Linked DNA regions of Homo sapiens. The protein of the gene in region 1 interacts with the protein of each later gene in a biochemical or structural test. Each region holds a gene or a part of one and is shown on either strand. Other genes may lie near its edges.

Evidence for each region. Proteins that work in one complex are often made in the same cells at the same time.
Region 2: of the proteins of MBP (region 1) and PRKCI, one has a biochemical effect on the other in vitro, tested with the Homo sapiens proteins (one study listed by BioGRID).
Region 3: of the proteins of MBP (region 1) and TRPM7, one has a biochemical effect on the other in vitro, tested with the Homo sapiens proteins (one study listed by BioGRID).
Region 4: of the proteins of MBP (region 1) and HIPK2, one has a biochemical effect on the other in vitro, tested with the Homo sapiens proteins (one study listed by BioGRID).

What each region holds. Positions count from the first base shown.
Region 1 is NC_000018.10:76,978,333-76,980,558, reverse strand, and holds the end of MBP (Golli-MBP), read left to right. Parts: exon of another isoform or gene 1-87; coding exon 88-132; 3' UTR 133-1,726; downstream 1,727-2,226. UniProt on the Homo sapiens protein: The classic group of MBP isoforms (isoform 4-isoform 14) are with PLP the most abundant protein components of the myelin membrane in the CNS. They have a role in both its formation and stabilization.
Region 2 is NC_000003.12:170,302,424-170,306,477, forward strand, and holds the end of PRKCI (protein kinase C iota type), read left to right. Parts: intron 1-616; coding exon 617-704; 3' UTR 705-3,554; downstream 3,555-4,054.
Region 3 is NC_000015.10:50,589,298-50,592,797, reverse strand, and holds part of TRPM7 (transient receptor potential cation channel subfamily M member 7), read left to right. Parts: intron 1-171; coding exon 172-887; intron 888-3,141; coding exon 3,142-3,206; intron 3,207-3,500. UniProt on the Homo sapiens protein: Bifunctional protein that combines an ion channel with an intrinsic kinase domain, enabling it to modulate cellular functions either by conducting ions through the pore or by phosphorylating downstream proteins via its kinase domain.
Region 4 is NC_000007.14:139,575,499-139,578,998, reverse strand, and holds part of HIPK2 (homeodomain-interacting protein kinase 2), read left to right. Parts: intron 1-3,500.

The DNA of each region.
Region 1 (2,226 bases):
CATCCACCCGGGACCACAGAAGAGGGGATGCTGGTGTGGGAGGACCCTGCGGCACTCTCGTCCTAACTCCTCTCTCTTCCTTTTCAGGGAGGAAGAGATAGTCGCTCTGGATCACCCATGGCTAGACGCTGAAAACCCACCTGGTTCCGGAATCCTGTCCTCAGCTTCTTAATATAACTGCCTTAAAACTTTAATCCCACTTGCCCCTGTTACCTAATTAGAGCAGATGACCCCTCCCCTAATGCCTGCGGAGTTGTGCACGTAGTAGGGTCAGGCCACGGCAGCCTACCGGCAATTTCCGGCCAACAGTTAAATGAGAACATGAAAACAGAAAACGGTTAAAACTGTCCCTTTCTGTGTGAAGATCACGTTCCTTCCCCCGCAATGTGCCCCCAGACGCACGTGGGTCTTCAGGGGGCCAGGTGCACAGACGTCCCTCCACGTTCACCCCTCCACCCTTGGACTTTCTTTTCGCCGTGGCTGCGGCACCCTTGCGCTTTTGCTGGTCACTGCCATGGAGGCACACAGCTGCAGAGACAGAGAGGACGTGGGCGGCAGAGAGGACTGTTGACATCCAAGCTTCCTTTGTTTTTTTTTCCTGTCCTTCTCTCACCTCCTAAAGTAGACTTCATTTTTCCTAACAGGATTAGACAGTCAAGGAGTGGCTTACTACATGTGGGAGCTTTTGGTATGTGACATGCGGGCTGGGCAGCTGTTAGAGTCCAACGTGGGGCAGCACAGAGAGGGGGCCACCTCCCCAGGCCGTGGCTGCCCACACACCCCAATTAGCTGAATTCGCGTGTGGCAGAGGGAGGAAAAGGAGGCAAACGTGGGCTGGGCAATGGCCTCACATAGGAAACAGGGTCTTCCTGGAGATTTGGTGATGGAGATGTCAAGCAGGTGGCCTCTGGACGTCACCGTTGCCCTGCATGGTGGCCCCAGAGCAGCCTCTATGAACAACCTCGTTTCCAAACCACAGCCCACAGCCGGAGAGTCCAGGAAGACTTGCGCACTCAGAGCAGAAGGGTAGGAGTCCTCTAGACAGCCTCGCAGCCGCGCCAGTCGCCCATAGACACTGGCTGTGACCGGGCGTGCTGGCAGCGGCAGTGCACAGTGGCCAGCACTAACCCTCCCTGAGAAGATAACCGGCTCATTCACTTCCTCCCAGAAGACGCGTGGTAGCGAGTAGGCACAGGCGTGCACCTGCTCCCGAATTACTCACCGAGACACACGGGCTGAGCAGACGGCCCCGTGGATGGAGACAAAGAGCTCTTCTGACCATATCCTTCTTAACACCCGCTGGCATCTCCTTTCGCGCCTCCCTCCCTAACCTACTGACCCACCTTTTGATTTTAGCGCACCTGTGATTGATAGGCCTTCCAAAGAGTCCCACGCTGGCATCACCCTCCCCGAGGACGGAGATGAGGAGTAGTCAGCGTGATGCCAAAACGCGTCTTCTTAATCCAATTCTAATTCTGAATGTTTCGTGTGGGCTTAATACCATGTCTATTAATATATAGCCTCGATGATGAGAGAGTTACAAAGAACAAAACTCCAGACACAAACCTCCAAATTTTTCAGCAGAAGCACTCTGCGTCGCTGAGCTGAGGTCGGCTCTGCGATCCATACGTGGCCGCACCCACACAGCACGTGCTGTGACGATGGCTGAACGGAAAGTGTACACTGTTCCTGAATATTGAAATAAAACAATAAACTTTTAATGGTATTTGCATGGGTGTCTTCTTTTGTGTTCCGGGCTGTAGCACACAGGCCCACATCAAGCGAGAGCCAGGTGTGCAGAGCAAATGTGACTCGGTGCCTCTGGGTCTCCAGGCAGGGCTGCCTGGCGGTGCCTGTTGGAGGGGGCATCCTCATCAGAGGGTCGATGGCTACTGAAGAAAGTGGAACAGAGGTAGTTGTTAGGGCACTGATTCTCTCACCAGGAAAAAAATATTTAGTGTCTCTGAAGACAAGCTTCCAAGTCTGTCTGTGTTCTGCTGTGTGGCTAGTGTACACACCCTGCAGATGTGAACCCAGGAGTCTTGGACGTGTTCCCCTTGCCACCTTTTTCTCTGAAAGCATGAAAGAGCGTGAAGCAATGTTTTACTTATAGTTACCTTTGGTTACAAGAATTTTTCTTCAAAAAGATAGACGAAAGTCTCTTTTGTTTTTTCTTTTTCTTTTGAGACAGGATCTTACTTTGCCACCCAGGTTGGAGTGCAGTGC
Region 2 (4,054 bases), on another chromosome or scaffold:
AGGGACTGTATCCTCTGTAACTTTGTGCTTCTTAGTATGGCATAATACATTTATGTATTAAATATTTGATAGCACTACTCACTGTATATTAAAGTAGAAGCCCAGTGTAACAAAATGCCAACCTCTCCCCTCTCTGTGACCCATGATCTCCCTGCGGTGTTCTCTCCTCATTCCAGGTCTCTCAGTGTACTTGTTCCTATTGCCTTTTCCTTTTGGCTAACTTCTTCTGGGCTACACTATCTAACATCTGGCTGTTGAGGTGACTACTAAATTGAATGCTAATTCAAACCTGGATGTTCACCTGTAACTAGGAATGTTGTTCTGGTCAAAAGTTAAGATTAACTGGAATGGTGACAACTGGTGTCTTTTTTATTCGCAGTCCTCAGTTTTGAACTCCTTTTTGGCTCTAAACTTGCTTGTGGGATTATCGGGGTTTTTTAAATTTTCAGTACTCCATTCTTGATTCGTCTAGAAAATCTGGGGGATTAATCTAAAAATTTATAGATTTCCTTTCAGTACAATTAGCCTAATTACTTGATTTTTAATCTTATTTTACCATTTAAAGGTTGAAGAAATCTTGATTATGATGAAAATAAATTTATTTTTCTTTCAACAGTGACATTGTGAGGAAGATTGATCAGTCTGAATTTGAAGGTTTTGAGTATATCAATCCTCTTTTGATGTCTGCAGAAGAATGTGTCTGATCCTCATTTTTCAACCATGTATTCTACTCATGTTGCCATTTAATGCATGGATAAACTTGCTGCAAGCCTGGATACAATTAACCATTTTATATTTGCCACCTACAAAAAAACACCCAATATCTTCTCTTGTAGACTATATGAATCAATTATTACATCTGTTTTACTATGAAAAAAAAATTAATACTACTAGCTTCCAGACAATCATGTCAAAATTTAGTTGAACTGGTTTTTCAGTTTTTAAAAGGCCTACAGATGAGTAATGAAGTTATCTTTTTTGTTTAAAAAAAAAAAAAACACTGCATTAAAAAAGTATCTGTTGCATTAAGGCACATAGTGGGATTACATCATAAACCTCCCATAATTTTTGTCATTCTGTGTTAAATCATTTCAGGGTTTAATTTTGAAATAAAAGATTAATATAAAATGCAACAACTTTTTATATTACCTATTAGTTTTGGAGTTCTTTATGTTTAAAAATTCAGGTGTAAATTTTATTGCCTTGGATAAATAAATTATTGATCTTTTTTAAGGCAGCAGTTATTAAATTGGTAATAGAAGATGCTGCTTGCTTAGAATTGGGAAATTCGGCTGGGTGCAGTGACTCAATGCCTGTGATCCCAGTACTTTGGGAGGTTGAGGCGGGCAGATCACTTGAGGTCAGGAGTTTGAGATTGGCCTGGTCAACATGGTGAAATCCTGTCTCTACTAAAAATACAAAAATTAGCTGGGCATGGTGGCACATACCTGTAATCCCAGCTACTCGGGAGGCTGAAACAGGAGAATCGCTTGAACCCAGGAGATGGAGTTGGCAGTGAGCCAAGATTAGCCTGGGCAACAGTGAGTGAGACTCGGTCTCAAACAAAAACCAAATTGGGAAATTCTTCTTGAGTTAAAAAAGACACTTTTTATTATGAATCAGATTCCAAATCATTAACTATTTTTGCAAAACTGGCACAAGTGGTTTTTCTTTTTAAGTATATTAACAGGGTAGCTCCTGAGCCTTTCCCTTTATTGGAAACTTTAACTGCAGTGTTAATATATACACTGCAAAAGACCAAGGATGCAGTTGAATGGAAAATTACTCAGTGTATAGAAAGGAAAAAAACCAGAAATTTAAAATAGATACAGAAAAGTACACTGGTAATATTTTTATTTCCTATTGGAGAGTGAATCCCCACAGTTGCTTTTTGTGACTTGATTCAAATGAGGCACTCATTATTGTTACCAAACTTGTAAAAGCATTCCATGTATTCAGTGGAGGCAGAATGTATAATATTTTTTCCTTATAATTTAGCATACAGGAAAAGTATTTATTTTTTAAGTAGGGTATCTTAATTATGCTCATTTCTTCCCCTAAACCACATTATCTATATGATTGGACCCTTTAGTGAAATCAGAAAAATAAAGTAGGCATGAATAAATGTTCAGGACACACACATACACTCACACACATCACAGTATCAGCTCTTTCAGTGAGTTTTTATTAACTAGATAACACATGTAATACATAGTAGAATACATTTCAGAGGCAGAGTTCCTCGGATTATTTTTTATGGATATTAGTGTTCAGCAGCTTATTATTTAAAGGGGTGCCAAATATAGCATCCTTCTGTTGTTTATTTTAAATATATTTTTAATGAAAAGGGACTTAAAAAGTAAACATGATTATCTAAATTACTTAAAATTTTTTAATCTTAGTAAAAATTTTAGGAAAGTTATCTAGTTTAAATTTCAAATGTTTTAAAATTTGTAGGCATTTAATAAATTATCTTTTTTTGGAGGGGTGGATGCTGCATTTCATTGGAAATGTCATTTTTCCAAAGTTTCTAGCTATATACTCTCTTTCCTTCAAATAACATAAGTCTGAAAGCAATGAAAACGTCAAAGGAAAATGTTTATATACATCCACATGTTTATTTAATATGTTTCTCTTAACACCTGAAACTTGTTTTAAAACAAAAAGCAGTATTCACTTCAAATCATAAACTTAGAATTCTGTATCTCATGTCAGAAATATGTTTATGGCCTTGCTTTTAAGTGGTGCTGTTTCCCATAGGGCATTAGTTCTCAGATTTTGGAATGTGAAATAATCACCTAGGAAGTTGGTTTAAAATGCACACTAGTGAGCCCACCTTAGACTTCTTTTGGGGCCTTCGACCTCACTTTGAGAAATACCTTCTTCAGGTTATTCTTTATGTTTGTCCTGTGGTTAAATATTAGAGTATTCATGATAAAACATTTTGAGAAGGGGTAAGCAGTGAGTTATTACCCACAATTTAAAGCAAATTTTGAATGAATCTTTAAGTTAGGTATCTACCTTCCCACCAGCCCCCCAAAAAACCTCTCAGTAGTTTCTTTCAGTGTACAAAATGATGAGCATTTTTCTATGATGAGGTTTTAACCATTATTCAGGGTGGTCTTTTGTTTTTAAATCTTTTTTTAACTAATAAGATTTACGGTGTGTATTTTATACAGAAATGCATTATAAATGTTTTTAATTGTGTTCTGTTTTTTGCAGTCTTTAAGTGCCATGCCAATTGTTCTTATATTCTATAGAAGTTCGCTCAAAATACTCAACAGGGGAATAGGCAGCGGACAGTCAGAATGGTTGGAATTTTGGCTTTCTAAGAAAAACTTTATTTTGCATAAGCATGTGGTCAGATCATTTTGTGCATATGCAGCCTGGATTGGATGTTAAGTAAATGCTTGTTCAGTGCCGGTACATTTACTTAAATCTGTTTTTATTTTTGTCATGTAGAATACTACTGTGGTCATCATAATGTAATCTATTTCTGTACCTTTTTTTTTTTTTTTTACTTTGAAGTCTTTAAATAAAATGTATAATACCCATTGAGAGTGGATCATTTTTCATATGTAGTATGTCAGAAATTTGTATAAGAACAAAGATGCATCAAAATTTGTTCAAGAAAAAGTGAAAATTTCAGAGTTTGGAATTTTGCTGTACTTAAAGCACCATTCTGGTAGAACTGATGCTGTCGTATTTACATTTAATAATGTTACATTTAGCTGGACATAGTGGCTCACACAGCACTTTGGGAGACTGAGGTGGGAGGATCACTTGACCCTAGGAGTTTGAGTTCAGCCTGGGCAATATAGTGAGACCCCATCTCTACATACAGAAAAATAAGAAATTAGCCAGGCATGCCGGCAAAGTGCCTATAGTCCCAGGAGGCTGAGGTGGGAAGACTGCTTGAGCCCAGGAGGTTGTGGCTGCAGTGAACTATGATCATGCCACTGCACTCCAGCTTGGGCAACAAAGTGAGACCCTGTCTCTCAAAAAATATTTAATGTTATATTTATTAATGTAGATATTATTAAAAATTAGGAAT
Region 3 (3,500 bases), on another chromosome or scaffold:
CTTCTTAAACATAAGGTAGGCCTTGTATAATTAAATAACTGTACCTTATTTTATATCTTGTTTAAATGCATGTGAAATTTTTCTCTTTTTATCATTATTATTTGAGGCTACAAAATAAAATTCTACATTATTTTTTCACATTTGTAAAAAAAGCTTATTTCTCTCCTACAGAGTGGAACAGATGTGCATTCAGATTAAAGAAGTTGGAGATCGTGTCAACTACATAAAAAGATCATTACAATCATTAGATTCTCAAATTGGCCATTTGCAAGATCTTTCAGCCCTGACGGTAGATACATTAAAAACACTCACTGCCCAGAAAGCGTCGGAAGCTAGCAAAGTTCATAATGAAATCACACGAGAACTGAGCATTTCCAAACACTTGGCTCAAAACCTTATTGATGATGGTCCTGTAAGACCTTCTGTATGGAAAAAGCATGGTGTTGTAAATACACTTAGCTCCTCTCTTCCTCAAGGTGATCTTGAAAGTAATAATCCTTTTCATTGTAATATTTTAATGAAAGATGACAAAGATCCCCAGTGTAATATATTTGGTCAAGACTTACCTGCAGTACCCCAGAGAAAAGAATTTAATTTTCCAGAGGCTGGTTCCTCTTCTGGTGCCTTATTCCCAAGTGCTGTTTCCCCTCCAGAACTGCGACAGAGACTACATGGGGTAGAACTCTTAAAAATATTTAATAAAAATCAAAAATTAGGCAGTTCATCTACTAGCATACCACATCTGTCATCCCCACCAACCAAATTTTTTGTTAGTACACCATCTCAGCCAAGTTGCAAAAGCCACTTGGAAACTGGAACCAAAGATCAAGAAACTGTTTGCTCTAAAGCTACAGAAGGAGATAATACAGAATTTGGAGCATTTGTAGGTAAGTTTGGCAAATTCGTATTTGTATATCAATATTATTTACTTTTCACCTTAGAAATAATAGAAATATGTACTGTTACAAGTCATTATCTTTTCATAGAGTATAATTATAAAATTTTTAAAAAGAATCAGACACCTGTGATTCTGGTACTTTGGGAGGCTGAGTGGGGAGGATTGCTTGAGCCCAGGAGTTGAGGACCAGCCTGAGCAACATAGCAAGACCCCATCTCTACAAAAAATTTTTGGAAGTAGCCAGGCGCAGTGGCATGTGCCTGAAGTCCCAGCTACTCAGGAGGCTGAGGCAGGCGAACTGCTTGCACCCAGAAGCTGAAAGCTGCAGTGGGCTGTGATCACACAACTGCACCATAGCCTGTGTGACAGAATGAGACCCTGTCTCTAGAAATGAAATGAAAAAAAAAAAAAAATCAGAAGTAGGGGAAATAGACTGAATTAGGCTATAAGAGTTATATTGGCACATAACCTCTTTGATGGAATTTTAGGTTCTGTCTTTTGAATTTGAATATCTTCAATTGGGTTTCATCAACTCTTGTTGAAAACCTAAGTGATTCTTAAGTACTTGGAGAACCTCATAGGGGAGGTTAGAATCAACTGGAAAAGAACAGTGCCCTATAAATAGATGACCATATAATTTTTTTACCCAAACCAAGACACTTTAAAAGTGAAAGGGTGCACTATTAATAATTATATCAGAACAACAATGGAAATCTAGGAATCTACTGGGAAAATTAGTACTTATGGTGTACCTATTTATATATTCACAGAGAACATTTCAAAAAGGAATGACTTATTCTTATACCTATGATAGCTTAAATAAGATAAGAACAAAAAAAAATGTTTATTTTGGCAGTAACACATTAAAGACCTTAGTGAAAACTTTCATGCATAGAGATTATTCAGACAGTATGTTAATAAGCCCATGGAAAATTGCCACATTAAGGCCAGCCTAGGAAGTTATCTAGGCACTAAACATGTTGATATTACTTCTAGGCTATATGGGATTCACTCTAGATACATAGATATAACTTTTCCTACGTTAAATATATTCCCCCTTTTTTTTTTTTTTTTAAAAGACGGAGTCTCCCTCTGTCGCCCAGGCGGGAGTGCAGTGGCACAATCTCGGCTCGCTGCAACCTCTGCCTCCCAGATTCAAGTGATTCTCCTGCCTCAGCCTCCTGAGTAGCTGAGATTACAGGCACACGCCACCACACCTGGCTAATTTCCAATTTATTTTTAAAAATGCATTTTAGCCTATTTGTTAATGTATTACCAGTGGGGTGTATGTATATATCATATATATTTTCTCTACATGTATATTATATAGGAAAAGTTACATATCTGTATATCTAGAGTGAATTCCATATAGCCTAGCAGTAAGTATCAGCATGTTCAGTGCCTGAATAACTTGCTAGACTGGTCTTAATGTGGAGATTATACATGGGCTTATTAACATGTTGTCTGAACAATCTCTATGTGTGGAACAGTTTTCATTAAGGTCATTAAAGTGTTATTGCCAAAATATTTTTGTTCTGTTTTTGTTTAAGTTATAGGCATAAGAATAAATCATTCCTTTTTGAGTGATTATCCGTATATATGTAATGCTTTTTTTTTTATTAATAGTAAAAATGCTTGGTCCCCTTTTTTCTTTTAAATTTCGAGCTATTTATTCATATCACATGTTGGTTTGTTTTATAAGGACTTTGGCTTTTAACGTTACTGTAAACTTAACTATAATCTTGGCCAGGTGCGGTGGCTCAGGCCTGTAATCCCAGCACTTTGGGAGGCCAAGACAGGCAGATCTTGAGTTCAGGAGTTCAAGACCAGCCTGGCTAACATGGTGAAACCCTGTCTCTACTAAAAATACAAAAATTAGTCAGGCATGGTGGCACGTGCCTGTAGTCCCAGCTACTCAGGAGGCTGAGGCAGGAGAATTGCTTGAACCCGGGAGGCAGAGGTTGAAGTGAGCCAAGGTCACACCACTGCACTCCAGCCTGGGCAACAGAACGAGACTTGTTCTCAAATTTAAAAAAACAAAAAACAAAAAAAACTGTAACCTTCACCAGCTTCTTGGCAATTTTCAATTTTATTTATCAAAAGAGCTAAAGGAGACTGCAGAGCCATCAAGTGTACTTGAAAAACAGCATAAACCTATTGTTTTTATAAACTTTAAGCAGTGCCATTATTTCGGTGAAGAAAAATAAAAATTTCTCATTGCAACATCTTTTTTTCTATTAAAGGACACAGAGATAGCATGGATTTACAGAGGTTTAAAGAAACATCAAACAAGATAAAAATACTATCCGTAAGTAAATCCTTATTAAAACACCCACAGTTCTATTTATTTTACTGTCTTGATGTTTAGTTCAAAATTTAATTAAACATTTTTTCAGCAAAAATACAGTTTTAGCAGATATCATTAACATGCTGATACCAAATATTTGAAGCTGTCCTCAGTTTGAAAAAATGAACAATTGAGGAACATGAAAAGGTACAAACAGCTTGCGTAATTATACTCACTAAATAAAAAACATCAGCTATTTAACATTTCTCTCTTTTTTTTTTTTTTTTTTTTTTGAGACGGAGTCTCGCTGTCACC
Region 4 (3,500 bases), on another chromosome or scaffold:
AAAATATAAATCACAGAAATATAGCTGTCCGGCACGGTGGCTCACGCCTATAATCCCAGCACTTTGGGAGGCCAAGGGTGGGGCAGATCACCTGAGATCAGGAGTTCGAGACCAGCCTGGCCAACATGGCAAAACCCCATCTCTACTAAAAAATACAAAAAATAGCCAGGTTTGGTGGCACACACCTGTAATCCCAGCTACTCGGAAGGCTGAGGCTGGAGGATCACTTGAACCTGGGAGGCAGAGGTTGCAGTGAGTCGAGATTGCACCACTGCACTCCAACCTGAGCGACAGAGCAAGACTCCACCTCAAAATAAAAAAAGGAATTTAGCTGTCCTCCATAGAAAGTCAAGGTGATAAAAATATTTCAAGCACATTCCAGAAACTTAATGAAGAAAAATAACTGAGTACAAGATACAACACATGAAGTGCTCAAATCAACAAAGGATGGCGGAAAGGAGGTTACTCATTACCTTTCTCTCTTAAAATGCGCTCCCTTTTTCCTGGGCAAAGTCTTCCTCAGTCTGGTTCTTAGACTAAGAATCAGTACCATGGCTGGGCACAGTGGCTCACGCCTGTAATCCCAACACTTTGGGAGGCTGAGGCAGGCAAATCACTTGAGGTCAGGAGTTCACGACCAGCCTGGCTAACATGGTCAAACTCTGTCTCTACCAAAAATACAAAAATTAGCAGCTGGGCGCGGTGGCTCATGCCTATAATCCCAGCAGTTTGGGAGGCCAAGGCAGGTGGATCACAAGGTCAGGAATTCGAGACCAGCCTGGCCAATATGGTGAAACCCCGTCTCTACTAAAAATACAAAAATTAGCTGGGTGTGGCAGTGGGCGCCTGTAGTCCCAGCTACTCGGGAGGCTGAGGCAGGAGAATCACTTGAACCCGGGAGGCGGAGGCTGCAGTGAGCTGAGATCACGCCACCGTACTCCAGCCTGGGCGACAGAGCGAGACTCTGTCTCAAAAAAAAAATTAGCTGGGCGTGGTGGTGCATGCCTGTAATCCCAGCTACTTGGGAGGTTGAGGCACGAGAATCACTTAAACCTGGGAGGCAGAGGTTGCAGTGAGCCAAGATCACACCACTGCGCTCCAGCCTGGGAGACAGAGCAAGACTCCATCTCAAAAAAAAAAATCAGTATTGTTTCTGTGCACATCTCACCCCAGCAGGACTGGTTGCCCAAGGAGGCAGGACAGCCCCCAGCCCCAGCGCCAGGCTCTTGTTCATTCCCTGGTCTGCCCTGCCCTTCTTGGTGGGGGACCATCTGCCTGTCTTTCCACCTGGAAGATGTTTTCTTCTCCATTAACTCTACTGTTCTTTAGCGTTTAAGGAACAGAAGCAATGCTTGTTGTAACTATGGTTTCTAACTATACAACACAAACCACACAGTCTTCAGGCTGCTTTGTCGTAGCCTTCACTTACTAAACCCCTCTTTTTCTGCTTCCGTTGTCATTGAAGTTAGAGAAAGGTATCTGGAATTTTCTGCCTCCCACACTTTCCTAGGCCATTATGCAGTTTGCTCCTAAAGAAGCCCAGTGTTGGCCCAGCGCGGTGGCTCACGCCTGTAATCCCAGCACTTTGGGAGGCCAAGGGCAGGTGGATCACCTGAGGTCAGGAGTTTGAGACCAGCCTGGCCAACATGGTGAAACCCTGTCTCTACTAAAAATACAAAAAAGTTAGCCAGGCGTGGTGCCGGGTGCCTGTAATCCCAGCTACTTGGGAGGCTGAGGCAGGAGAATCACTTGAACCTGAGAGGCAGAGGTTGCAGTGAGCCGAGATCGCACCATTGCACTCCAGCCTGGGCAACAAGAGTGAAACTCCATCTCAAAAAAAAAAAAAAAAAAAAAAAAAGGAAGCCCAGTATCTTCTCACTAGTCTGGGTCTGTTTGTTGCTTTTGCCATTACAAAAGTGCTTGCATTTAATGAATGGCTATGACTGGTGCATCTGGGTGCATTTGATTGGAAATTTCATTTAGGTGTGTATTAATACTGCACTGTGTGTTAGGCAGCCCTCTCCTGGAGGAGAGCTGAGGCACAGGGACATGGGGGGCTAGTAAAGCATCTCTTCTGCTTTTATCAAGGGGTGATGGTCCTGTCTGCAGAACTCCCCAAGCTGGGGTGGGGAGATGGCCCCCACTCGGCAGCAGAGCTCCCGCCCTCTGGGGCTCTTGCCCCTGCTGGGCTGGACACTCATGCCCTGTCCTGCCCTGTCCTGTTCCATCAGCCTTCTTGGACTTGGGCTGTCCCTGACTGTCAGCGTCTTCATCTGGTTTATCCTCTGGCCTCGCCACCTCATCTGCGTGATCTGTGATGCCTCCTCCTTATTCACGCTCTCAGCCTTCTCCCTGCCACCCCCGTCCCTGGTGGTACACAGTCACCGTCCTTAGCACAGGGCAGGAGCTCAGAAAATACTTGGATGAGTTAAAACCACTGGGCTCTGAAGAGGCTCCTGGCTCCCCTGGCTCTCTGGCTGGGTAACATGGAAGCCATCCAGCTCAGGGTTTAACCCACCTCTCTCAGAGCCCCTGGCTACTCAGAGCGTGGTCCCCCAAGCAGCAGCACTGGCACCCCCTGGGAGCTTGTCAGAAATGCAGGTGCTCGGGCCCCCCAGAGCTGCTGGCCAGAGTCTGCACTGAACAAGATGCAGGAATTACATTTGAGAACTGTTGATGGAGCCACCTGCTGACCATGAGGTCACCTCTGGAGGGTTGCAGTGTTTTTTCCACTCTTCAGCCCCCTTGGCAATAACATGGAGGCAGTTTTGTGCTTGGCCATGTTTGGCTCACAGGGCCATTCCCCGGATGATTTAGTCTCATCCTGCCTAGAGGCAGGTAACTGGACCAGGTGACTCTGAGGGTTATTTTAGCTTCTAGTAGTTTATTAGGTCCCACCACAGACACTGTCTCCTCTGATACTCATAGTCACCCATGGTGGGGACCAAGCAGGGATCCTGTCTTAGTCTATTTTGTGTTGCTGTAACAGAGTACCTGAGACTGGGTAATTTATAATCAATAGAAGTTTATTTGGCTCACGATTCTGAAGACTGGAAGTCCAAGAACAGGATGCCAGCATCTGGCAAGGACCTTTGTGCTGCATCTTCCTAGCACAGGAGGCAGAAGGACAAAAGAGCATGAGGGTGAGGGGGCCAGACTTGTTTTCATCAAAAAAGCCAATCTCTCAATAGCTAACCCACTCCCGAGATAATATTAATGCACTGATGAACTCATACACTCATGAGGGCTCTGCCCTCAGGACCTAACATCCCTTACTGGCCCCACCCTAAACACTTGCACTGGGGACTAAGTTTCTAACACAAGAACTTTGGGGAACACATTCAAATTATAGCAGATCTCTCCTACCCATTTTCCAGATGCTGAAAGTAACACCTCCCAGAGGAACGGCACTGGGCCTGGCCTTAGGCCACCAGCCCACCTTGCCTCTCCTGATTCTTTTCCGCTTTCCCTTGCTTCATTCCCTCATGCAGCCCCGACCA